Linked DNA regions of Homo sapiens. The protein of the gene in region 1 purifies or fractionates together with the protein of each later gene. This does not show direct contact. Each region holds a gene or a part of one and is shown on either strand. Other genes may lie near its edges.

Region 1 (8,224 bases):
GCTCCGTCTCAAAAAATAAATAAATAAAATAAGCTGAGACAAAATGACAAGGAAGATCAGGTGGAAAAGCATTCCAGGTAGAGGGAACAGCAAATGCAAAGGCTCTGAGCAAGAAGAACTTGCACATTCAAGGAACAGAAAAACCAGTTTGGCTGGAGCCGAATGCAAAGGGCAAGAGAGGTGAGAGGTGAGACAGAGAGAGTAGGCCCTATCACATGCCAGGGAATCAGGGTACTGAGGCAGGAGTCTATTCCAGTATGGTGAAAAGCCACTGATGGCTGATCATGCTAATGATTGTAGGTAACATTTTTTGAGCCCTTAGGAAATGCCAAGTACTTATTAAACCCTTTCAATGCATTAACTCATTTAATCCTCACAAGCAATCCTAAGAGGGAGGTACCTGGATCATCCTCATCTTACAGATGAGGAAACTGAGATCCAGAGGGGTTAGGCCACTGGCCAGTGAATTGCATGGGACAAGACCATTTAAGAGATAAAAATGATACAAAGATGAAGCCTGGATTCATCTGGGTACACAACTGAGGCTAGAAAAGCATTTCTTTCCCATCCCTTTGATTGCTGGGAAGCCTCTCCTTCAGTCTTCAAAGCCAGGAAGAGTGAGGCCAGGCACAGTGGCTTACGCCTGTAATACCAGTATTTTGGGAAGCCAAGATCGGAGGATCTTTTGAGGCCAAGAGATTGAGACCAGCAAGGGCAATATAGCGAGAAATATTTCACCTAAGAAAATGAGAGCAAGGCTGGGCACACTGGCTCACGCCTGTAATCCCAGCACTTTGGTAGCTCAGGAGTTCGAGACCAGCCTGGCCAACGTGGTGAAACCCCATCTCTACTAAAAATACAAAATTAGTCAGCTGTGGTGGTGTGTGCCTGTAATCCTAGCTACTCTGGAGGCTGAGGCGGGAGAATCGCTTAGAACCCGGGAGGTGGAGGTTGCAGTGAGCCGAGACAGCACCACTGCACTCCAGCCTGGGTGACAGAGTAAGACTCTGTCTCAAAAAAAAAAAAAAAAAAGAAAAAAAGAAAAAGAAAACGAGAGGAAAGGCCAGATGTGGTGTAACACCAGCACTTCGGGAGGCTGAGGTGGGTAGATCTCTTGAGCTCAGGAGTTCAAGACCAGCCTGGGCAACATGGTGAAACCTCATCTCTGTGAAAAATACAAAAATTAGCTGGGTATGGTGGCACATACCTGTAGTCTCAGCTACTCAGGAGGCTGAGGTGGGAGGATCACCTGAGCCTGGGGAGGTTGAGGCTGCAGTGAGCCGTAACTGCACCACTGCACAGCAGTCTGGGCAACAGAATGAGACCCTCTCTCAAAAAAGAGGGAAAAAAAGAAAGAAAAGAAGAGAAAACAGCCAGGTATGGTGGTGCACACCTGTAGTCCCAGCTACTTGGGGGGCTGAGGTGGGAGGATTGCTTGAGCCCGAGAGTTGGAGATCAGCCTGAGCACATGGTGAGACCCTATCTTAAATAAATAAAATGTATTTTGTTGTTGTTGTTAAAAAAAAATAAAAAAGGGCCAGGTGCACTGGCTCATGCCTGTAATCCCAGCACTTCGGGAGGCCAAGGCGGGCGGATCACCTGAGGTCAGAAGTTCGAGACCAACCTGGCCAACACGGTGAAACCCTGTCTCTAAAAATACAAAAATTAGCTGGGCATGGTGGCAGGCGCCTCTAGTCCCAGCTACTCGGGAGGCTGAGGCAAGAGAATCACTTGAACCTGGGAGGTGGAGGTTGCAGTGAGCCGAGATCGTGCCACTGCACTCCAGCCTGGGTGACAGAGCGAGACTCCACCCCACAAAAAAAAAAAAAGAAAAGAAAGGAAATAAGAGGAAAGAAAACTAACATCCACCAGGTTTTCTGCTTGAGCCAGGCTCTAGGAAGGTTACTAGAGTTCAAAGGAACACAGATACTTCCTCCTCTGGATACTCTTAACACTTTCTCTGTTCTCCCTCTACACCTTTTCTGCTTTGTTTGCTCGTGGTATGTGCCCCTAATTAAGATAGCTAGCATTTATTTGGCACTAATGATGTGTCATGTACCAGGCCCATTTATTCTTGCAATAACCTTAAATTATTGTTTCCATTTTAGGATGAGGAAATTGAAGATCTGAGTGCTTAAGCAAGGGATCAATGTCATACACCTAAGAACTGACAACCTGGGGTGTAAACTCTTGTCTGTCAGACACAAGAGTCTAAGTACATAACTACCGGGCTATAAAGCCCACCTTCCACTCTTCCATGAACAGTCTACGGATTCCCTAATAGCAGCCACAGAATTGCTTCAACCTCTACTTCCTGTTAAAGAGGGTTCATAATAGTGCCAGTCTGACAGGTTGTTAAGGTTAAATAAATTACCTAGAATTCGGATGACCAGTTGTAAGGTTTCCCAGGGACTGAGTGGGTTCCCAGGAATGGTTTCAAAATGGGGATGGCTGGATGTGTGGCTCACGCCTGTAATCCCAGCACTTTGGGAGCCCAAGGCAAGAGGATCACTTGGGTCCAGGAGTTCAAGATCAGCCTGGGCAACATGGTGAGACCTGTCTCTACAAAAAATACAAAACTTAGCTGGACATGACATGGTACCACCTGCCTGTAGTCCTAGCTACTCAGGAGGCTGAGGTGGGAAGATCGCTTGAGCCCAAGAGGTGGAGGCTTCAGTGAGCCGTGATTGTACCACTGCACTCCAGCCTGGGCAACAGAGCAAGACCCTGTCTCTAAAAATATAAATAGGCGGCCGGGCGCGGTGGCTCACGCCTGTAATCCCAGCACTTTGGGAGGCCAAGGCAGGTGGATTGCCTGAGGTCAGGCGTTCGAAACCAGCCTGGCCAACATAGCGAAACCATATCTCTACTAAAAATACAAAAAATTAGCTGAGCGTAGTGGTGGGTGCCTGTAATCCCAGCTACTTGGGAGGCTGAGGTAGGAGAATTGCTTGAACCTGGTAGGCGGAGGTTGCAGTGAGCCGAGATTGCGCCATTGCACTCCAGCCTGGGCAACAAGAGAGAAACTCCATCTTAAATAAATAAATAAAAATAAATAAATAGGCTGGGCATGGTGGGTCACACCTGTAATCCCAGCACTTTGGGAGGCTAAGGCAGGCGGATCACTTGAGGGCAGGAGTTCAAGACCAGCCTGGCCAAAATGGCAAAACCCTGTCTCCACTAAAAATACAAAAATTAGCCAGGTGTGGTGGCACATGGCTGTAGTCCCAGCTACTTGGGAGGCTGAGGCAGGAGAATCACTTGAACCCAGGAGGCAGAGGTTGCAGTGAGCCAAGATCACACCACCGCACTGCAGCCTGGTGACAGAGCACGACTGTGTCTCAAAAAAATTAATTAATTAATTAAATAAAAAAGGAAATGGAACTATTTTTGTGAATCTGTGGATTATATCAGAAAAAAAAGACACAATGGGGAAAGTCCTAGGCAAATCAGGATGAGTTAGTCATCCTTCCTAGATGAGTGTTTGGTGCTAAATACATGCTCAGCAGACATGATTATTGCTTCCCCTTTCTTTCGTCCATTTGGCAACAAAAAGGTGGCAAGCACCCACTCTGTGCCCTGTCCTAGGGTCCGGGAACCCTGTAAGCAGTAGATGGAGGTGGGGGTGGGGGTGGGGGCGGGGATGCTGTTCAGAGCACCTTGCTCCAAGGGTTCATTAAAAAATCCACCAGTGGACCGGGCGCGGTGGCTCATGCCTTTAATCCCAGCACTTTGGGAGGCCGAGGCGGGCGGATCACAAGGTCAGGAGATCGAGACCATCCTGGCTAACACGGTGAAACCCCGTCTCTACTAAAAATACAAAAAAAATTAGCCGGGCGTGGCAGCGTGCGCCTGTAGCCCCAGCTGCTGGGGAGGCTGAGGCAGGAGAATGGCGTGAACCCGGGAGGCGGGGCTTGCAGGGAGCCGAGATCGCGCCACTGCACTCCAGCCTGGGGGACAGAGCGAGACTCCGTCTCAAAAAATAAAAATAAAAAAAATAGAAAAAACAATCCACCAGCCACGATAAATGGCAGACCTCCTTCTGATTTCAGCCGGTGTGGTATGTTCCTGGGCTGACAGCACTTGTCTAGTCTTGCTTTCCCAAGTGGGAAAGGTCTCTGGGACCTTAAGGTCCCCAGGTGGTGACACAGAGACAGGTAGGGGGGCCCATAGCAAAGCCAGGCAAGGAGGTCCCGAGATGATTGTGGGTGGCAGGGAAAGAAAAAATATTCCTTGACTTTGTGCCTGGACCTGGTTGTAATAAAGGCCCAAGAGGTAGTTCCTATCATCGTGCACATTTCGCTGAAGGAAGAAACTGAGGGTCAGTGACCCAAGTGAAGTGACTTGCCCAAGATCATGCAGGAAGACATGGATAATTGTAATTTGAACCAAGGTCCCAGCAAAGTGGGATTGTTGGGGCTGAGTGGGCCGGCTCCTGCATTTCCTTCCCTCTCCCTGGGCTTGGGTCTCCCACTTGTCCAGACAGCGGCCGGGCTTGTCACGGGGCTCTGTGCAGCCTTTTCCACTCTCCCGGCTGCCAGCGTCCCGCCCCGTCCCCTCCCAGCCCCCAAGGGAGGAGGGGAGAGCTGCAGAGAGGAGGAGGGGTCGGGGAGGCCGGCTTTATAAAGGCGGCTGGAACAACCCTGCCCGCCAGACCCCGTCGCCCGGATCCCCTGAGCTGCCCGCCATCCCACGTGACCGCGCCGCCCCCCAGCTCCACCGCTGAGTGAGTTGGGGCGCGTCCCTATCCCGTTCCCAGTCCCTCGCCGAGCCGCGTGGTGCACTGAAGCCGGCGTGGGGAGGAGAGCCGATGAAGGAGAACGCTAACATGGGGGCTCCAGGCAGAATCTCTAATGGGAGAGATTTAGGACCTGAGGGAGCCGGGAGACCCGGGAGCCCACGGTCTGGTCGGCCACCTCCTCTCCTCCCCGGGCGCGAGGCCTAGGAGACCGCAAGCCACCCTCCAAGAATGCGCGTGCAGTCGTTGCCGTGGCAACGTGCAAGCCTGCATGGGCCCACCGCTAAAGGAAAGGGGAGGTTGTTGGGGGTGTGGGGGCTGGTCCCCTGGAGGTCCAAACTCATCACGCGGCGGTAGCACGAGGGAACTGGGAACGTCCCCTCCCCCGTGTCCCAAATCCTCTGGGAGCCAGAACGCAAGTCGCATCGCCTCTCTGAGCCTCAGTTTCCACATCTGCCATATGGAGGCAAGATTATTGGTTCCAAGTTCCCCGAAGAGTTATCTGGAGGGTAACGATCCAGGCTAGTTCCCACTTATGGTTGGACGTCCAAGGAATGGGTTTAAGCGGCTCAGATAACTCCTGCGACCCCACCCCACCCCCAGGCCCGCTCGCCATGGCCCTCTTCGGGGCCCTCTTCCTAGCGCTGCTGGCAGGCGCACATGCAGAGTTCCCAGGCTGCAAGATCCGCGTCACCTCCAAGGCGCTGGAGCTGGGTAAGGCGCAGGGGCAGACAGGGACGGACGGGAGCGGACGGGGTTGGGGTCGCCCCAACAGTGGGCACGGGAGCTAAGTAAGGGTTTCTCTGCTGCTTCAGTGAAGCAGGAGGGGCTGCGCTTTCTGGAGCAAGAGCTGGAGACTATCACCATTCCGGACCTGCGGGGCAAAGAAGGCCACTTCTACTACAACATCTCTGAGTAAGTGGGGGGCGGGGCCTCGCGATCCGGGGCGGGGCCTCGGCGGTGGAGGCGGGGCCCGAGAAATCTCAGGGTCTCGGGAGACTGGAGGCTGAGTGGGATGGGGCGTGGCCAAATCGATGAGGCAAGACTTAAGAAACCGGATGGGGCCGAAAAGATAAAGGCCAAGCCAGTCATCATAGGCGGGACCAGGCAGATGGGCGTGGCCTTGAAAATGTAGAGGGGGCCAAGAAGGAAGCAGGACCAGTGGATGTGAGGCGTGGTCGAAGAACAACAGAAAGGTGGAGTCAAGGAACTTCCCAATAGATGAGAGTGGAGTCTCGGGCACGGGGTGGAGTTAATCGGAGGGGTGGAGAAACTGAAGGCTCTAAGTATGGTTTAGGATGAGGGAGGGGGAATAAGGAATTGAGATGTGAGACGGAGCTTAGGTGATGGAGGCAAAGTGAACGGACTCTATTAAAAGACCGGGTGTAGCAACCCCAGGGTGTGGGAGGGGAGGGGGTGCAAGCAAACAAGACTTTTTTTTTTTTTTTTTCTGAGAGGGAGTCTTGTTCTGTTGCCCAGGCTAGAGTGCAGTGGCGCGATCTTGGCTCACTGCAACCTCCGCATCCCGAGTTCAAGCGATTTTCCTGCCTCAGCCTCCCGAGTAGCTAGGACTACAGGCGCGTGCCACCACGGTCTGCTAAGTTTTGTATTTTTGGTAGAGACGGGTTTCACTATGTTGGCCAGACTGGTCTCGAACTCCTGACCTCAAGTGATCCGCCCTCCTCGGCCTCCTAAAGTGCTGGGATTACAGGCATGAGCCACCACCGCACCTGGCAAACAAACAAACAAGACTTTTAAGCGATGGGGTGAAGCTCATTTTTAACACCTGGATCAGGAAGACCTCCTCTCTCAGCCACCCAAGTTCAACTTTGAGCCACCCAAGTCTAAGTTGGGCACTTGAGGGACAATGGAAGAATTCATTCCACCCACTCCCGCTTCCCCAGGCCTGGACTTGAAAGGGGAGCAGACAAATTTCCTGTCGTTGGGGGAAGTTCCCTCTTCTTGGCCCTGGATCTGACCCTGAGGCCTCCTGTAGGGTGAAGGTCACAGAGCTGCAACTGACATCTTCCGAGCTCGATTTCCAGCCACAGCAGGAGCTGATGCTTCAAATCACCAATGCCTCCTTGGGGCTGCGCTTCCGGAGACAGCTGCTCTACTGGTTCTTGTAAGGACCCAGCACCCTCAGGGGAGTGGAGAGTGGGTCAGGAGGGCTGGAGGTGCTGTGGGGCTGTGGGCAGCCCCCTTAGCCTTCCTGAGTTTCCGTTTCTTCATCTGTGTAACAGAAACAGGCATATGCATTTCATACGAGTTGATAGGAAGGTTTGGTAGGATGTGTGGAAAGAGGTGAAACCTTATTAAGAGGTATGGTGATGCATGGGGGCACTGAAGACTCAATTGAGCTCCTACCTGGAGTGAATATTAACCCCCCTGGCAGCTATGATGGGGGCTACATCAACGCCTCAGCTGAGGGTGTGTCCATCCGCACTGGTCTGGAGCTCTCCCGGGATCCCGCTGGACGGATGAAAGTGTCCAATGTCTCCTGCCAGGCCTCTGTCTCCAGAATGCACGCGGCCTTCGGGGGAACCTTCAAGTAAGCCCCAGCCCCAACCCCAGCTCACCCTTTTCGAGCCCCACAGCTCATCTGCCTAGCGCAATGCAAAGTGCATAGGCCTGGGAATCAGACCAACTGGGTCCAAAGCTCAGCTCTGTCACTTCCTGGCTGTGTGAACGTGGCCAAGTCACTGAAGCTTGGTGCCTCAATATCCTCATTTTATAAGATCCTATTTTATAAGATCGTTGTCAGGATTATTTGTGTTGGTATATGTAAAAAATATTTAGAACAAGGCTGGCTGTGGTGGCTCATGCCTGAAATCCCAGCAATTTGGGAGGTCTGGGCGGGCGGATCACAAGGTTAACAGATCGAGATCATCCTGGCCAACATGGTGAAACCCCATCTCTACTAAAAATACAAAAATTAGCTGGGCGTGGTGGCACGTGCCTGTAGTCCCAGCTACGTGGGAGGCTGAGGCAGGAGAATCGCTTGAACCCGGGAGGCGGAGGTTGCAGTGAGCTGAGATCGTGCCACTGCACTCCAGCCTGGTGACAGAGCAAGATTCCATCTCAAAAAAAAAAAAAAAAAAAAATTTAGAACAGCACCTGGCATATGATAAATGTATATTTAAGTGCTGGCCACTTAGATAAGAGTAACTGTGAGGACTATCTGATATGCACATTTGGCCATGTACTGGATTCTCAATAATTGGTATCTCTAAATAATAATAACAAAAATAATAATTTTTTTTTTGAGAGGGAGTCTCACTGTGTCACCCAGCCTGGAGTGCAGTGGCGCCATCTCGGTTTACTGCAACCTCCACCTCCTGGGTTCAAACGATTCTCCTGCCTCAGCCTCCCAAGTAGCTGGGACTACAGGCATGCACCACCATGCCCAACTACTTTTTTTGTATTTTTAGTAGAGACAGGGTTTCGCCATATTGGCCACGCTGGTCTCAAACTCCTGATCTCAGG
Region 2 (7,754 bases), on another chromosome or scaffold:
TGCACACTTACTTGACGATAGTACGGTGTAAACATACCTTTTAATGCACTGGGAAACAAAATTCATGCGTTTTATTTTATTGCAGTATTTGTTTTATTGCAGTCGTCTAGAACCAAACATGCAGTATCTCTGAGGTATGCCTGTTATCACTTGAAAGTAGACCGTGATAAGCTAAAGATGTACAGTATAAACCCTAATGCAACCACTAAGAAAAAAAGAATTATACCTAATAAAGTCAGAGAAGATAAAATGAAATCATAGAAAATAATCCAAAAGAGTACAGAAAAAGAGGGACAAAGATAGAGATGGGGCAAACAGCAAACAAATAGCAAGATGTTAGATTTAAACCTAACCTGATATATCAATAATCACATTAGATGTAAATGGTCTAAACACTCCGATTAAAAGGCAGAGATTGTCAAAGTGGATTAAAAAGCAAGCCCCAACTATACGCTGTCTATAAAAAATACACTTTAAGGTAAAAAGATGCAAATAGATTAAAAGCACAAGGACAGAAAAAGATATACCATGCCAATACTAATCAAATGAAAGCTGGAATGGCTATTTCAATCAAAATAGATTTCAGAGCAAAGAATATTATGAAATGATTTTATTTATCCCTAGTAATGATAAAGGAATTAATTCATTAAAGGGATGTAACAATCCTAAACATTTATGTACCTAATAAGAGTTTCAAAATACATAAAGCAAAAAGTTACAGAACTATAAAGGAAATAGACAAGTATCCAAAATTACAGTTGGAGACGTCAACATACCTCTTAATAACTGACAGATCAAATAGACAAAAAAAAAAAAACCAATAAGAATATAGAAGACTTGAACAACACTATCAATCAACTTCATCTAATTGACATTTACAGAACACTCGACCCAACAACAGAAAGGCTTATGTATATTCTTGAAGCTTTCAAGTACACACAGAACCTCACCAAGATAGAATATTCTGCACCATGAAAAAGGTCTCAAAAACTTAGTAGGATTCAGGTCATAGAAAGCATATTTTCTGACCATACTGGAATTGAAATAGAAATCAGTAACAGAAAGACATCTGGAAAATCCCCAAATATTTAGGAACTAAATAACATACCTCTAAGTAGTCCATGAATGGGCTATTAAATGGCACATCTCAATAAATCAAAGGGATATTAGTATTTTGAAATGAATGAAAATAAAAATAATCCATCAAAATCTTTGGGATGCAGCTAAAGCAGTACTTAAGGGGAAATTTATAGCACTAAACCCCTATATGAGAAAACAGGAAAGGTCTCAAATCAATGATTGTAGCTTCTCACCTTAAGAAACTAGAAAAAGAGCAAGTCAAATCTGAAGCAAGCAAAATCCAATGAAAATAGAAAAACAGAGAAAAATAAATTCACCAAAAGCTAATTACTTATTAAAAAGAGCAATAAAATTTATAAACCTCTAGCCAAGCTGATCAGGAAAAAAAAGAAGATACAAATGACCAATATCAGGAATGAGAAGGAAAACATCATTACAAATTGTAGAGATCTTAAAGGAATAATAGAATACCATAATTAACTTTATGCCAATAAATCCAACAACTTAGATGAAACAAATTCCTTGAAAGATACAAACTACTAAAGCTCATTTAAAAAAAAAAAAGGAAAATCTGGATTTCCCTATATCTATTAAAGAAATCAGTTATTTAAAATCTTCCTACAGAGAAAACCCTGGGCCTAGAAGGCTTCACTAGAAGGCTTAAATTCTATAAACATTTAAGGAAGATACAATACCAATGCGACACTCACTCTGTTTTAAAAATTGAAGAAAGGGCCAGGTGTATTGGATGAATCCAAGCACTATGGAAGGCTGAGGCAGGTGGATTACTTGCAATCAGAAGTTGGAGACCAGCCTGGCCAACACAGTGAAACTCCCTCTCTACTAAAAAATACAAAAATTAGCTGGGCATGGTGGCACACACCTGTAGTCCCAGCTACTCGGGAGGCTGAGGCATGAGAATCACTTGAACCTGAGAGACGGACATTGCAGTGAGCTGAGATCGCCACCACTGCACTCCAGTCTGGGCAGAGCGAGACTCCATCTTAAGAAAAAAAAAAAATTGAAGAGAAGATAGGTGTGGTGGCTCACACCTGTAATCCCAGCACTTTGGGAGGCTAAGGCAGGCGGATCGCTTGAGGTCGGGAGTTGAGACTAGCCTGGCAACATGGTGAAACCTCAAGTCTACAAAAAATACAAAATAATTAGCTGGCTGTGGTGACGTGTCTGCAATCCTAAATACTCAGGAACTCGGCTGAGGTGGGAGGATGGCTTGAGCCCAGGAGGCAGAGGTTGCAGTGAGCCGAGATCATGCCACTGCACTCCAGCCTGGATGACAAGGCCAGATCCTGTCTCTCAAAAAAAAAAAAAAAATTGAAGAGGGGGAAACACTTTCCAACTTATTCTACAAGGCCAGTATTGCCCTGACAGCAAAACCACAGACATTACAAGAAAAGAAAAATACAGACCAATATTATTCTTGGGCATTGATGTAAAAATTTTAAACACAATTTTAGTAAACTGAATATGTGAAAAGGATAATGAATACATCAGAACAAAGTAAGCTTTATCCTAGAGATGCAAGGTTGGTTTAATATGTGAAAGTCAATATAATTACCATATATCAAACTAAAAAACAAAAAACCACACAATAACCTCAGTAAATGCAGAATTTGACAAAAGCATTTGACAAAATAAAATAACTATTCCTAATTCTTGCCTAATTCCACAAGTATATATTTTTTTGAGATGGAGTCTTGCTCTGTCGCCCAGGCTGGAGTGCAGTGGCGCAATCTCGGCTCACTGCAACCTCCGCCTCCCGGGTTCGAGCGATTCTCCTGCCTCAGCCTCCTGAGTAGTTGGGACTACAAGCGCCTGCCACCATGCCCAGCTAATTCTTTGTATTTTTAGCTAAGACAGGGTTTCACCATGTTGGCCAGGCTGGTCTTGAACTCCTGACCTCAGGTAATCCGCCTGCCTCGGCCTCCCAAAGTGCTGGGATTACACAAGTATATTTTTTAAAGGCACGGTTCCTCTCCTGAAATTTGGCTTCTATTCTATCATTCCACTAAACCTGCCTTTACTATATTCACCAGCGTCTATTTCAAAGATGCAATATAGCATGGCTATTAGGAGAATGGATTCTGAAGCTTGACTACTTGGGTTCAATTCCCACTCTACTCATTATCAGGTATGTGATTTTCACCAGTTTTAACTTCTCCATGCCTCATTTTTCCTATCTGCAAAATGGGGATAATAAAAAGACTTCCCTTATAGGGCCCTATGAAGATTTAAATTGGTTCATACACATTTAAAGCACCTAAAACTTAAAACAGTGCCTGGTATATGGTAAAAAACTATAGAAGGAAGTGCCAGCTATAATTACCACCTCTGGAAAATACCTAGTTCTTAATCTCTGTAGTTCTCAGATGATCTCTCAGTCCATGTTGAGAAGCATTTCAGAAAGTTAAACTGAGTCTCTTTGAGAGTGCATACAGGGTGAAGTAAAGGCAGAGCCTGACACTTGAATCCTGACTCTATCATTTACTAGCCAGGTGCCCCTGGGCACCTTACTTAGCCTCTCTAGACCTCTGTCTTTGAAATCATAAGACTGTTGTGAGGATTGAGTAACAGAATGCTTCTCTTTCCTCAGTCTCCTACCAAAGCCAGACCTGTTTTATTAGAATGCCTTCCAATCAGACTGGTCCCAGGACCAGCTACTCCAGAGACCAAGAGCAAATGCTGGTCCCAGGGGAGGTCAATACTGAAAGGTCAATCTTGTACTCAGCCATGACCGTCCTGGGTATTGTCTTCCCAGAGGGCAGAATTATTTCTCAGGATCAGGAGGGTGGCTTCTTAGGAAACCATGAAAACTCCTGGGATTCTGATGGGAATGGCCTGGGCTCTCTCTAAAGGGCTTATGATCAATCTCCTTTTCTTCCACCCATTAGCTGGTAATATTTCCAAAGGTCAGCCCTGGAATTTCTAATCTTCTCTATTTGGGAGTTAATTACAATTTATAAACATAATGACTGCAAAAGTCTTTATTTTCTTTTTATTATTCTTTCTTAAAAGTATTTTCTACCCTAATATTTCATGAGAACTTTGATTCCTATTAAAATATGAATGTTCACATTTTAATATCCTCTCTAAACTGAAAGCACATCTATCTCCAGGTGTATAGTGTGGCTCCATATGAATTTTTCCCTGAAACTGCTGATGACCTATCCGTATTTCTGAGTTCATCTCTGGCTTCTGGTTCCACCACTCTGACTCACATTTCTATTTTTAGGCTGGTCCCCCAAAACTAGAAGACTGTTCACAGTCTGTTTTCTAGTGTTAGCGGCCACAACCATTCTGCACTGATCAAGGTTATTTACTCCATAATCATCTTTGATAAATCTCTTCTTTGTTCCCCATGTATTGTAGTAGGTTTTAGATACATGTTTCTCCTCTCTGGCTGCTCTAATCCAAACCTTAATCATTATACAGGAAAACAGCGATAACTTTCTTGTTGGCCTCCCCCTTCAGGCCTATTCTACTCATAGCAAGAGAAACTTCTTACTCAGGTGTTACTGTGAACATGGCAACGATTTTTAATTCTACTTAAACCAAACAATTTAAGTCTTGAAGACACTCCCCTACTGACTCTCATCTAGTGGCTTTTATTTTTTGGCACTCTGGATCCAGGCTCACCAACACGGCCAACCGTTGTTTTCCCTCATGACTTGTATAATCCTTAGTCTCAAGGCCCACATGCTCCTAACTATTAAATGATATGGTGCCTAAGAACATGGGTTATTGGGTCAGACTGCCTGGGTTAAATTTCTCATTCCATTACCAATCAGTTGTGAACCTCTGTGTGCCTCAAGTTTTCTCATGCAGAAAGGAAGAACAATGGCAGTACCGACTAGCCTTACAGGGTTTGTTGCAAGGATTAGATAATCTATGCAAAGCACTAAAGACAATGTCAGGCACAGAGTAAACACTCAAAGTATTAGTTACTACTATCTCCTACTATTACTGCTTCCTAACAAAAGACCCAGGGTCTGGTACATAGTAGGTGATCCATAAGTTGAATCAAGGAATAGATACTCATTCTTGCTCCTAAAATTATTGAAACACTAGGGAAAGGCATAGGTTTTAATCTAAAAACTTGACCTACCTTTAAATCTGAGTTGGCTGCAAATTTCTGTCCAATTAAAGCTGCATTTCCTCCTACATAGTGCTGTAAGAGAGTTCAAGGCTTTTAGACAGTATTTTAATACAACTATATCACCCAAGTTTAATCATTTTTTATTTTAAAAATTAATTTATAGTCCATTTCCCAAAAACATTTTGAGGTGATTTTACATCAAAGGACACACAGATGAAGTGAATGCAACACAGAAATAGAAAGTGAGTAATAAGATGAAGAAAATAAATAGGACAACCATGAAAATGAGTCTGATTGCTTTAACTGTTGATCAAATTCAGCTCTGAGCTTACAGACAGCCAGAAGAGACACAGGAAACAGGAAAAGTGTGGACAGGGCTTATCGTCTACATTATAGTCCTTCTAAAATGAAGAAAAATTTCACTATCCTGTGGAAAAATCATTCAGTAGATACTATAATGAACTAAAATCTAACTCTTGAGTGAGGCACATATGGCCTTTATCTAACCCATGTTTTCCTTACTACCTTCATCTCCTGCCCTTCCCTTCCACACCCTGCTTACAGCTCTCCAAGTCAGCCTTCCCCTGTCTCTGTGCCTTTGGCACATGCTGTTTCCTTCCATTAGGACACCCTCCCTTTCTCATATACTAGGTAAAACCCTGATCACTTTCCAAGAATCAGCTGCAGTGTCACCTCTTCTGTAATGCCTTCTCTGTTCCCCTTACACCCCACTGACATCTCAGCCTTCACAACCGCCCTCACCAGATAGGATTACAGATCTCTTCCTACCCCTATAACCTGAACAAACCTCTAATGCAGCTCTTGTCTGCTTGGGCTACTATCATCTGGGTACACAACTAGGTCCTTCGGGGCAGGGACTGTCTTCTTCTGAAGTGTTCAGTAAATGTTTGTTGCTAAATTTTGAGAAACGAAGAAACACACTGATGTGTTGGGAAACATAAAAGTTTTCCTGGGAGTAAATTCTAAAGATAATGGGCCCCTAATATAGGACAGTACTTTCCCTTAAACACCACATCTCTCAGCTGAGGACCTGGAGAACAAATAATTCAAGGTTGGTGTTCCATGTTGCTAAGGATGGATCCATATGCCTTGGAAATCTGACACATAACAGCTAAGGCTGCTGTTCTATTATAAAAGTTGAAAAGCCTGATAGTGTTACCTGGGTGGAATGCTACTATCCCAGCTTCCTAGTCCTCAGCCCACGCAGAGGCATAGACTAAACCAGGGGTGTCCAATCTTTTGGCCGCCCTAGGCCACACTGGAAGAATTGTCTTGGGTCACACATAAAATACACTAACAATAACGACAGCTGATGAGCTATTAAAAAAAAAGGGTGGGGGGGAGGTTAAATCTCATAATGTTTTAAGAAAGTTTATGAATTTGTGTTGGACCACATTCAAAGGCATCCTGGGCTGCAGACTGGACAAGGTTGGAGTAAACAATTCTAGATGGTAGACATCACTCTTATCCCAATTTTGTGCTGACTAACCTCTGAATTCAGGTGGGACAGTAATAGCTTTTTAGAGATAATTTAAAACTTTCTGTGATATGTAGGCTGAAATTTGGCCCTTTAACATGTCAGCCTTAATGTTTTATTCAACCACGATAGTTAGAATTTACTAAAAAAAATCTTGGGAAAATAGTAAGATATCTACAAAGTGGATTTCAGAATTTTCATATAATGTTTATCAACCTGCCTTAAACTATAAGGAAGTATGAAAAGGCACTCCTCTAGTGAAAGGGGTTTTACAATGTTAAGAAATAACCTGGACCATCACAAAGCTAGATCAAGTTGCTGTAAAAATTTTTTTCATCAAGAAATAAAGGCAGAATCAAGAGAGAAGAGAAATCAAACTGGTGGTTTAAATTCCGTAATCATAAAGACTTTTGAGCAGTGAACTCATCATGTTAGAACTATCGAGATTCTCTCATAAGAGATAAGAATCTCACTACTGATCCCAGTTGTCAAAATGATAACTGAAATCTTAACTTGCTGTCACCTTTAGAAACTCAGCTAGGTAATGCCTATGTCCATTTCTAATGTTCAAATAGGCAGCTTCGAAGACAAAAAACTTATTTTTAAAATTTTTTTGAGACAGGGTCACACCCTGTTGCCCAGACTGGAGTGAAGTGGCACGGTCATGGTTCACTGCAGCCTTGACCTCCCGGGCTCAGGTGATCCTCCCACAGGCACATGCCACCATGCCCAGCTAATTTTTTGTATTTTTTGTAGAGACAGGGTTTCACCATGTTGCCCAGGCTGGTCTCAAACTCCTGGGCTCAAGCAATCCACCTGCCTCAGCCTCCCAAAGTGCTGGGATTACAGGCGTGAGCCACTGTGCCCGGCCTAAAATCTTAAGTCATCAAAATAAAAGTAGTCACAAAGGTTTGCCTGTGAAAGGTGCCAATTAAAAATGGCATTAAGAGCTTCCCTGGCTAGAACTACCAAACCAGACTGGGTGCCCAGCCAAAGGGAGGTTTAAATGAGGAGGAAGAATGGGGTGGGGGCAAGACATGGGAGATAACCAACCAACCAAAA
Region 3 (7,887 bases), on another chromosome or scaffold:
TAATGGCTAGGGGGCCACAAGAAAAATGGAAATACTGCCCATAAAACAATGGCATGCAGGATTTGTCTAGATCCCAGAGGTCACCTTTGGCAGAAAGAAAGACCATGGTTTTCCTATTGGGATGGGGAGTGTGTTGCCTGACAGCAATCTTCTATTTTTGCTTTCCTCTCTTCTATTTCTGCTTTCTTCTCTTTTATTTTGATATAAAAGGCAAATGTCACGGTTCATTCATCTTCATTCTGAATAACTGAAATTACAGGAAAGAGGGAGGGGGAAGAAAGGAGAAGACTGCAGAATTACAGAGAAACCTGAGTGTGGAAATAACCATGTTCTAACAGGAAGAGACTGGGGAGACAACAATGAATAAAAAAAGAAAAGAAGGAAGGGAGGGAGGAAGAAAGATGGAGAGGAAAAAATGAAAAAGGAAGATGTTGGATTCAACTTTATTCAGTGAATATGTCAGAAATGTTCTATGTACAAGGCATGGGGGTACAGAGAAACGGTTAAGAAATAACCCCTGCTTTCGGGGGGCATATAGTCTACTGGAGGAGAACAGGCCAACTAACATACCCAATATAAGGCAGAGTTAGCCAGTGGCCACTTAGGATTACAGGCAATGCCTGCTGGGGGCACAGAGAACCGACCCATTGCGTTTCGACCTGAGGCCATGAGGGAAGATTCCCTAAAACTGGCAGCATTTGCCTCGGCCTCAAAGATTTATGTGGGAGGGTAAGTGGATGGAAGGAACACTCTCTACTCCTGCAGAATGCCTTCCTACCCACCTCCTGTAATCTGGAGGTCATTTGTCTCCGCAGGGGCAGATCTCTTTGCCCCAGACATCCTTAGTATATAGAAATGTGGTTACCAACTGCCGACATGGACAGGGCCACTCCAAAGGTAAGTTTTTACTGATCCACAGCAAAATGCAACATATAAAGACAAGACGGAAATAAAATATTCAGATTAAAGAACAGCTTGTTTTTTGTTTTTTTTTTTTTTAAGACAAGGTCTCACTCTGTCGCCCAGGCTGGAGTGCAGTGGTGTGATTAGACCTCAGTACAGCCTTGACCTCCTGAGCTCAAGCGATCCTCCCATCTCAGCTTCCTGAGTAGCTGGGACTGCAGGCACACACCACCACACCTGACTAATTTTTGTATTTTTAGTAGAGACAGGGTTTCACCATGTTGCCCAGCTGGTCACAAACTTCTGGGCTCAAGTGATCCACCCGTGTTGGCCTCCCAAAGTGCTGAGATTACAAGTATGAGCCATGGCACCCAAACCAGTCTTTTCTTAGGATGTTAGGCCCTTCCTAATTTTTTGATGGCAAAAGGCCTTGTCTTTTTAATGAAATGATACTGACAGAAGATAGTATATGCAGTTGGTTTATAAAAACTATTTTTGCTTGGTAAAGTAATAGTTGACCAAGTGCATTGGTCCCCGAGACGTGACTGATCTTAAACCATTTTGGGCCAGGCATGGTGGCTCACGCCTGTAATCCCAGCACTTTGGGACGCCTAGGTGGGTGGATCACGAGGTCAGGAGTTCAAGACCAACCTGGCCAACATGGTGAAACCCCCATCTCTACTAAAAATACAAAAATTAGCTGGGCATGGTGGCAGGTGCCTGTAATCCCAGCTACTCTAGAGGCTTGAGGCAGGAGAATAGCTTAAACCCAGGGGGTGGAGGTTGCAGTAAGCTGAGATCACGCCACTGCACTCCAGCCTGGGCAACACAGTGAGACTCCGTCTCAAAAAGAAAAAAAAAAGAAAAAAAATTTCAGAGTCTCAGAACATCTCACCTGGAATGCTATGATGTGCCACCTAGGCATGCAGATGCAGTCCTTTCTCCAGCCCCTCCCTCCAGGCCTCTGAAGTCTCCTCCTAGGGGCGGGCCATGATGAGCTCAGGACTCTGTGCCTTTGTCCTTTCCCGTGTTGAGGTGTGGAATTGGTCCCTTTCCAAGGGCATGTGATAAACTGACTCACACCAAGGCAGTAATAAGGGAGGCCAATCTCCCCCTGGGGCCTTCGACTTTTAGTGGAGTATTAAAACTTAATTTAAACTGATGAATTGTAATGGTGAGATTTCAAGCCCTTCCATGGGACAATGGGAAGATATATTTCTTTTTAAATAAAGGGCTTTCTTCTGAAATCAGACCACGCCCTTTCAATGACTGACACAAACTGCTGGAGAGACGCAAAAGTAAGAGCTGATTCTGTCTTCTGGATCAAAACGTCCCACTCCCCCGTGAAAAGAAATCTTGACTTTTTCTCTCCCCCTCTCCAACACAGGATGAAGCAGTTAATCCCACCACCTCTAGCTCAGGATGAGAGAGCAACTCACACATCCCTCTTAGAAGACCAAACTCTGGCCGGTTTTCTGCATGCCTGGTGCTCCTTGCAGAAACAGAGCCTTCCTGCCTACCTCTGGAATCCTGGGGCCTCAGGTGGTGCCCAGTCCACAGTAGGAACACAATAGGAGATGAGTGAGTAGGGGAGAAGTGAGCAGTTGGATATGGCAAGTTAGAAACAGTCCAGCCTCCAGTGGGGCACTCTGCTTACCTACACTTAGGTAAACCCAAATCCTCAAAGCTCACAAGGCCTTGAAAACTCCCAATTCCATGAATCCTGATTACAAACAACCCCGAGGAACCATTTAGCTCCCCGAAGACCAACAGAATCTGTGTACAATGTGGGAGGAGAGAAACTCCGGAGCGTGGCCCAGGAAGACAGGTGGCAACCCTAGAAATGCTGCAATGCCTGTTGAAGCCCCTTCCCCCTGAACTGGCCGACAATTTTCCTTCCATATACATTAAAAGCATAGTCTGTATTTTGACCTGATGGAAAAGATATAGACAGGATCTGGGACAAAGCCACCAAATCTTTTGTTCCCTTGGACACTCGATAGAATAAATGTTTTCCACGTCACACAGAAGAATGTTAAGTGCTTTGTTTCTGCAGAAGTGGAACAGAGATAGTGGGAGCATCTGTCAAAACCCCCAAAATGCTTTAATGTGGTGGCAGCTGGCTGGGAGGAGCAGGAGCCCAGTTCCCTAAAAGCCAATAGTTCTGGAAATGGAGGAGGGCTGTTTGAACCAGCGCGTTAACATCACCCAGGAGCTTGTTAGAAAGGTACATTCTCAAGTCCCTCCCAGGACCAACTGAGTCAGAAATTCTAGGGCTGAAGTCCAGGAATCTGTGTTTTAACAATCCCTCCAGGTAATTCTGAAGTTTGAGAACCGGTGGAATAAGGCCAGGGAACTCACACAAGGCCACAGCTCTTAGGTGACCTAAAAAAAAGTGGACGACAGCTGAGGAGCCACCATGCCTGGTGTGGCCAGGCCTGTACTGAAGCAGCTGAGGGCGCGTCCACGCCCGTCAAACCATCCCGGGCACCCCGTCTCACCACCAGCCTCTCCCCGACGTCTGTTGTGACTTGACCTATGCTCGTGGCACAGGGAAAGGGCTGTGGCCTCTCAGGCTCCCAGGCTATTATTAGTTCCAATCCGCACAAATCTACCAGTGCTAAAGGGAAGCTTCTGCGAACTTTGGAAGGTGGATTAACTGTTTCAGAGCAGCAGCTGCGGGCCCAGATAGTTGTCGGAGCCGCTAGACACAGCCAAGCGCTTCCCTGAAAGCCAAGGCCGGCGGCGAGCTGGTGGTCCCGCCGGCCGGAGGCCCCTCCCCGCCAGGCCGCAGAACCCGGGTCGGAGAGCAGCCAGTCTCAACCTGCGTCCCCAAGGCCGAGGATGTGTCCTGGTTTTTTAAAAAGCTGTTTGCGCACTTCCAGGGCCTCACCCCTTTCATTTGGGGCTCCAGTATTACTGTATTGACCTAATTAATTCATTTTTTTCTCAGTCCAAAGTGGAAGCCGGAGCACAGGGATGCAAATCAAATACAAACCCGTCCTGGGTGCCAATACTCTGGACAATTAAAACAAAGAGCGCAGTGGTGGCGGTGGCGGCGGCACCACACAAAACCCTCGGGAAACATCCAGAACGTGCCGCGAACCAGCCGGCAGGGTGGGGCGCAGCCCGGCTGCAAACATGCCAGCAAGGAGGCAGTCCCAACCCCGCAGGTGGACAGGTGGAGGTTGGCAGGGGTCAAAATCCATCCTGAAGGCCTGGGAGCCGGGCAGCTGCGCGGCACAACTCCAGGGGGCACACTCGCCCTGCGCCCTGCGGGAATGGCGCCCCGGCCAAAAAAGCAACCAGACAAAAACCCATTGCACGGGCGGGAACTGGTCTGTGCGACCCGCAAAAGGGGTGGGTGGGAGAGGAAGAATGCGGAAGCGAGGAAGAGGATGGGAAGGGAGAAAGAGGAAAGGGAGGAAAAGGAGAAAGTGAAAAAGAGAGGGGGTTTGGGAGCGCGAGGGGAGAAGGAAGAGGGAGCCGGAGGGAGAGGAGGGGGATCGCAGAGAGCAGGAGCGCGGAAGGGGGGCGGGGGAGGAGCAGAGAGAAAGGGAAAGGGGGGTGCGCCGGGGCCCAGCGACCCGGGCGGGGGGTGGCGGCGGCCAAGGGGCGGGACCCGGGTCGGTGCCCACCTGCGTGGGCGCCCGCTGCTCCGAGGGGTGGAAGCCCGGGGGCCAGAGGGAGCGGCCGGGAGGAGGGCTGGGCAGGGAGGCAGAGGGGAGGGAGGGGACGGGGACGGGGAGGCGGGGAGGAGCCGGCGCTCGGCTGGGGCTGCGGGGGCGGCGACGGCGGGAGCGGCAGTGGCGGCGGCGGCGGGTCCGGAGGTGGCGGCAGGTGGCCCCGCGCGCGGCGGCCGGCCCGGCCGGGGGCGGGCGGGAAGGTGGCGCCTCGGGCGGGGGCCGGTCCCTGCACCAGGTGACCTGTTCCGGCCCGGATCCGGGCGGCCTCGCCATGCAGCGGCGCGGCGCGGGGCTCGGGTGGCCGCGGCAGCAGCAGCAGCAACCCCCGCCGCTCGCGGTCGGCCCCCGGGCCGCAGCCATGGTCCCGAGTGGCGGCGTCCCCCAGGGCCTCGGCGGCCGCTCTGCCTGCGCGCTGCTCCTGCTCTGCTACCTGGTGAGCGCCGGACCCTGCCCGGGTCTTCCCCTCCGCGCGGGGCCCCGGGGACGCGGGTGGGGGCGGCCGGGGACACCCGCCACGCGGGGCGGGGACGCCGCTGCTAGTTTTCTCTCTTCCTCGTCGCTGCGCCCCGGGCGTTCCCGGCACCTGGGATAGGTACCCCGGGCGTGGAGAGGGGCGCTTGGACCGGACTTGCCAAGCTGCTCTCTCGCTCGTGCTCATTCCTTTCCCTCCTGGACTCTCTCTAGACCCGGGTCGGGTTACCCTCGAGACCCCTTCTTGTCCTCGACTCCACCCGGGAGCCTCGCCGCCCGGAGTTCGCTCCCCGCCCCGCCGCGCGCAGTCTCCAGCACCCCCCAACCCCCCACCCCTCCTGGGCTTCCCTCTCAATCTTCTCGCAGCTCCTTTCCTTCCCGTGCCCAACTTCGCCTCTTACTCTCGGCGCCCGCCACCCGCGTCGACCCTCCTTTTAGTTTCCACCGGGTCCTCCCGGCCCGGACAGTTTTCTGCCAACGCACCTCGCATCTCCAGCGCTCTTCAACTCCTCCTTGGTCACTCCAGCCAAGTTGCGGATGCCGGAAAGAAATCTAGTTCTCTGTAACACGCTTACCGCCAGAGTGGTGACTTTAGCTGCGTCTTGAACATTGTCATTTCAGAGAATATGTTTGGCTCATGCATGTCAGTTTGCAATTTGCACACTTCTTGGCTTCTGTTTTAGTCATCAACTAAAGGGCAGTAACCTATTTTTCAAAACCCATTTATTTTAAATACCAGAGTAGCTGAGACCCCTCAGAACAAAGTGGGGAGAAATTTTCTCAGTTCCTTTGAGGGCTTGCTTGCTTCTGTTTTGAGTTCTCCTAAACAATAGTAAATTTACAGAAGGCGACACCCTTCCTGCCCAGAGTAACTTATGTTCCACAATCCTGCAGAAACCTTGGGTTATCTCGCCATATATTACTGTAAATAAATGAAATGGAAAATGCTGAATCATGAAACTGATGTAATAGGAAATTCACAGAATGCCAAAAAAAAAAAAAAAAAGAGCAGTGTCATTGTCCAGAATTCATTTCACTTATGTGGCATTGTCATTATTTGGAGTCTTTCTTTTTGGAAGCTAAAAACTGCTTAGGAGATACTGGCAGAAATTAGAATTTGATTCTGAAGAAATTTGCCACTCAGCCCGTTTCTTTTAACGTTTTTTACTTCTTGAATGTTTCATTTCTTGAAGCAAGAAGGTGTAAAAATGCAAATTATAATTCTGCCTGTGCATCTACCTGTTGAGCAATCCGTGCTTTTACTCATATTTCAGAATTAGCCAATATCAAATTGTGTGGTTGGGCTTACTTCATATTTTCATAAGAAGTTGTCAGTTAACATGAATGATATTTTTTTGCCCAAGAGATATTATTATTTAATATTTATGCCACAAGGTTACAACACACAGGCTCATAAATAAAACTGCCATAACAAATGACAAGATTTCAGTTTAAACAGATGATCCCTGTACACAGGGCCCTGCTGGCTACCCACAGAAGCAGAAGTGATGTAGTAGAGTGTTGCGTGAAACATTCATATACAAATGGGCCGGGCCGAAAAGTTCCACGTGGACATCTCAAGACCTGGCAAGGAGGGGGACTACTTCTGGACAGTTCAGGAAGTCAGAGTCAGGAGAGCAAAGCCTAAGGGCCTAAGTGGACTCTGGAAACAGAGACAGATAATGATGGAGCAAGTATTCCTGTGAAAGTTCTGTGTACACCAAGGGGGATTAAGAGAACAGAGGGAAAAATGATGCCATGGATAGACTCAAGTGAGATAGTGAAGGAGTGAGGAAGGGCTCCGGAAAGAGTAATTTTAGAAAATACTGTGATGTGGAAAATAACTAGAGCATGGATGAATGTCTTGGCAGATGGGGAAGGAATGGATTTGGGGACCTCATGGTGGGGGGAAATGTCAGTGCTTCCTGCCTTTGTATGCTTCCTTCAGATGGACTTCTGATACGCTTACTGTACAAGACAGACTTTGATAAACAAGAGAGCCATTTTGCAAAGGACACAAAAGGCCGACTTAAAAGGTAGTCTCCACATTTTGTTCTGAAGATCTAGCCGTTTACTAGGGATGTTGCTCTTGGGTCTACACTACCCAAGATACTACTGAAGGCAAGGCTTCTTGATCTTGGAGAAGCTTGGTGTGAGAATTGGGGAAAATGTAAATATCCATATGAAACACTTGAAAAACATAAAACAATAGAGAGAAAACGCAAATGTATAATTGTGTGCATTTTGCTCAATCAAGGAATGCTACCTGGAGGAAGTGGTTGGTCAGGGGGATGGGGCTGGGCAGGTGCAGGGTAGAGATGGAGCAGAATAGCTGGGCAGGATCCCAGGAATATGTAGACTCTAGAGGAGGAAAGGTCTTTCATAATTTGAAAGCCTACATGGTAATAACGATAGCTTACATTGTGCTATACATTGTGCTAAATCGTTTATAGGCATTATCCAGTATTTATCTTAGCAACAGCCCTCTGAGGTAGGAGCTACTATAATCTCCATTTAGATGAGATAACAGAGACTCAGAGAGGTTAAGTTAGTTGCCCCAGGCCATACAGTCTGAGATTGAAACCCAAATCTGTCTCCCTCCAGAGCCCCAGCTCTAAACCACACTAGCTTATTGTCTTCTGGATTTTGCTGCTTGTAACTCATTCTTCATCGATGTACGGGCCATTAGCAGAGCTCTAGCAATTAGCAGCTACTGTGCAATTGGCCAGGATGTGAGGTCATGTCTAAAGTAATCTAAAATATACAAAGCAGGAAGCGCAGGCCACAGAATAGAAGCAGGATGTTAAAGTGGGGAAGAAAGGTAAAG

The links. The genes of interacting proteins can lie anywhere in the genome.
Region 2: the proteins of PLTP (region 1) and ADPGK purify together in Homo sapiens (affinity purification with mass spectrometry; 4 studies listed by BioGRID and IntAct, with this or other methods). This does not show direct contact.
Region 3: the proteins of PLTP (region 1) and SEL1L3 purify together in Homo sapiens (affinity purification with mass spectrometry; 4 studies listed by BioGRID and IntAct, with this or other methods). This does not show direct contact.

The regions. Positions count from the first base shown.
Region 1 is NC_000020.11:45,908,581-45,916,804, reverse strand, and holds the start of PLTP (phospholipid transfer protein isoform a precursor), read left to right. Parts: upstream 1-4,649; 5' UTR 4,650-4,726; intron 4,727-5,341; 5' UTR 5,342-5,352; coding exon 5,353-5,452; intron 5,453-5,553; coding exon 5,554-5,653; intron 5,654-5,810; exon of another isoform or gene 5,811-5,934; intron 5,935-6,734; coding exon 6,735-6,863; intron 6,864-7,133; coding exon 7,134-7,289; intron 7,290-8,224. UniProt on the Homo sapiens protein: Mediates the transfer of phospholipids and free cholesterol from triglyceride-rich lipoproteins (low density lipoproteins or LDL and very low density lipoproteins or VLDL) into high-density lipoproteins (HDL) as well as the exchange of phospholipids between triglyceride-rich lipoproteins themselves.
Region 2 is NC_000015.10:72,766,580-72,774,333, forward strand, and holds part of ADPGK (ADP-dependent glucokinase isoform 4 precursor), read right to left. Parts: intron 5,267-7,754; coding exon 5,204-5,266; intron 1-5,203. UniProt on the Homo sapiens protein: Catalyzes the phosphorylation of D-glucose to D-glucose 6-phosphate using ADP as the phosphate donor. GDP and CDP can replace ADP, but with reduced efficiency.
Region 3 is NC_000004.12:25,859,810-25,867,696, reverse strand, and holds the start of SEL1L3 (protein sel-1 homolog 3), read left to right. Parts: upstream 1-4,708; 5' UTR 4,709-4,860; coding exon 4,861-5,022; intron 5,023-5,543; exon of another isoform or gene 5,544-6,570; intron 6,571-7,887.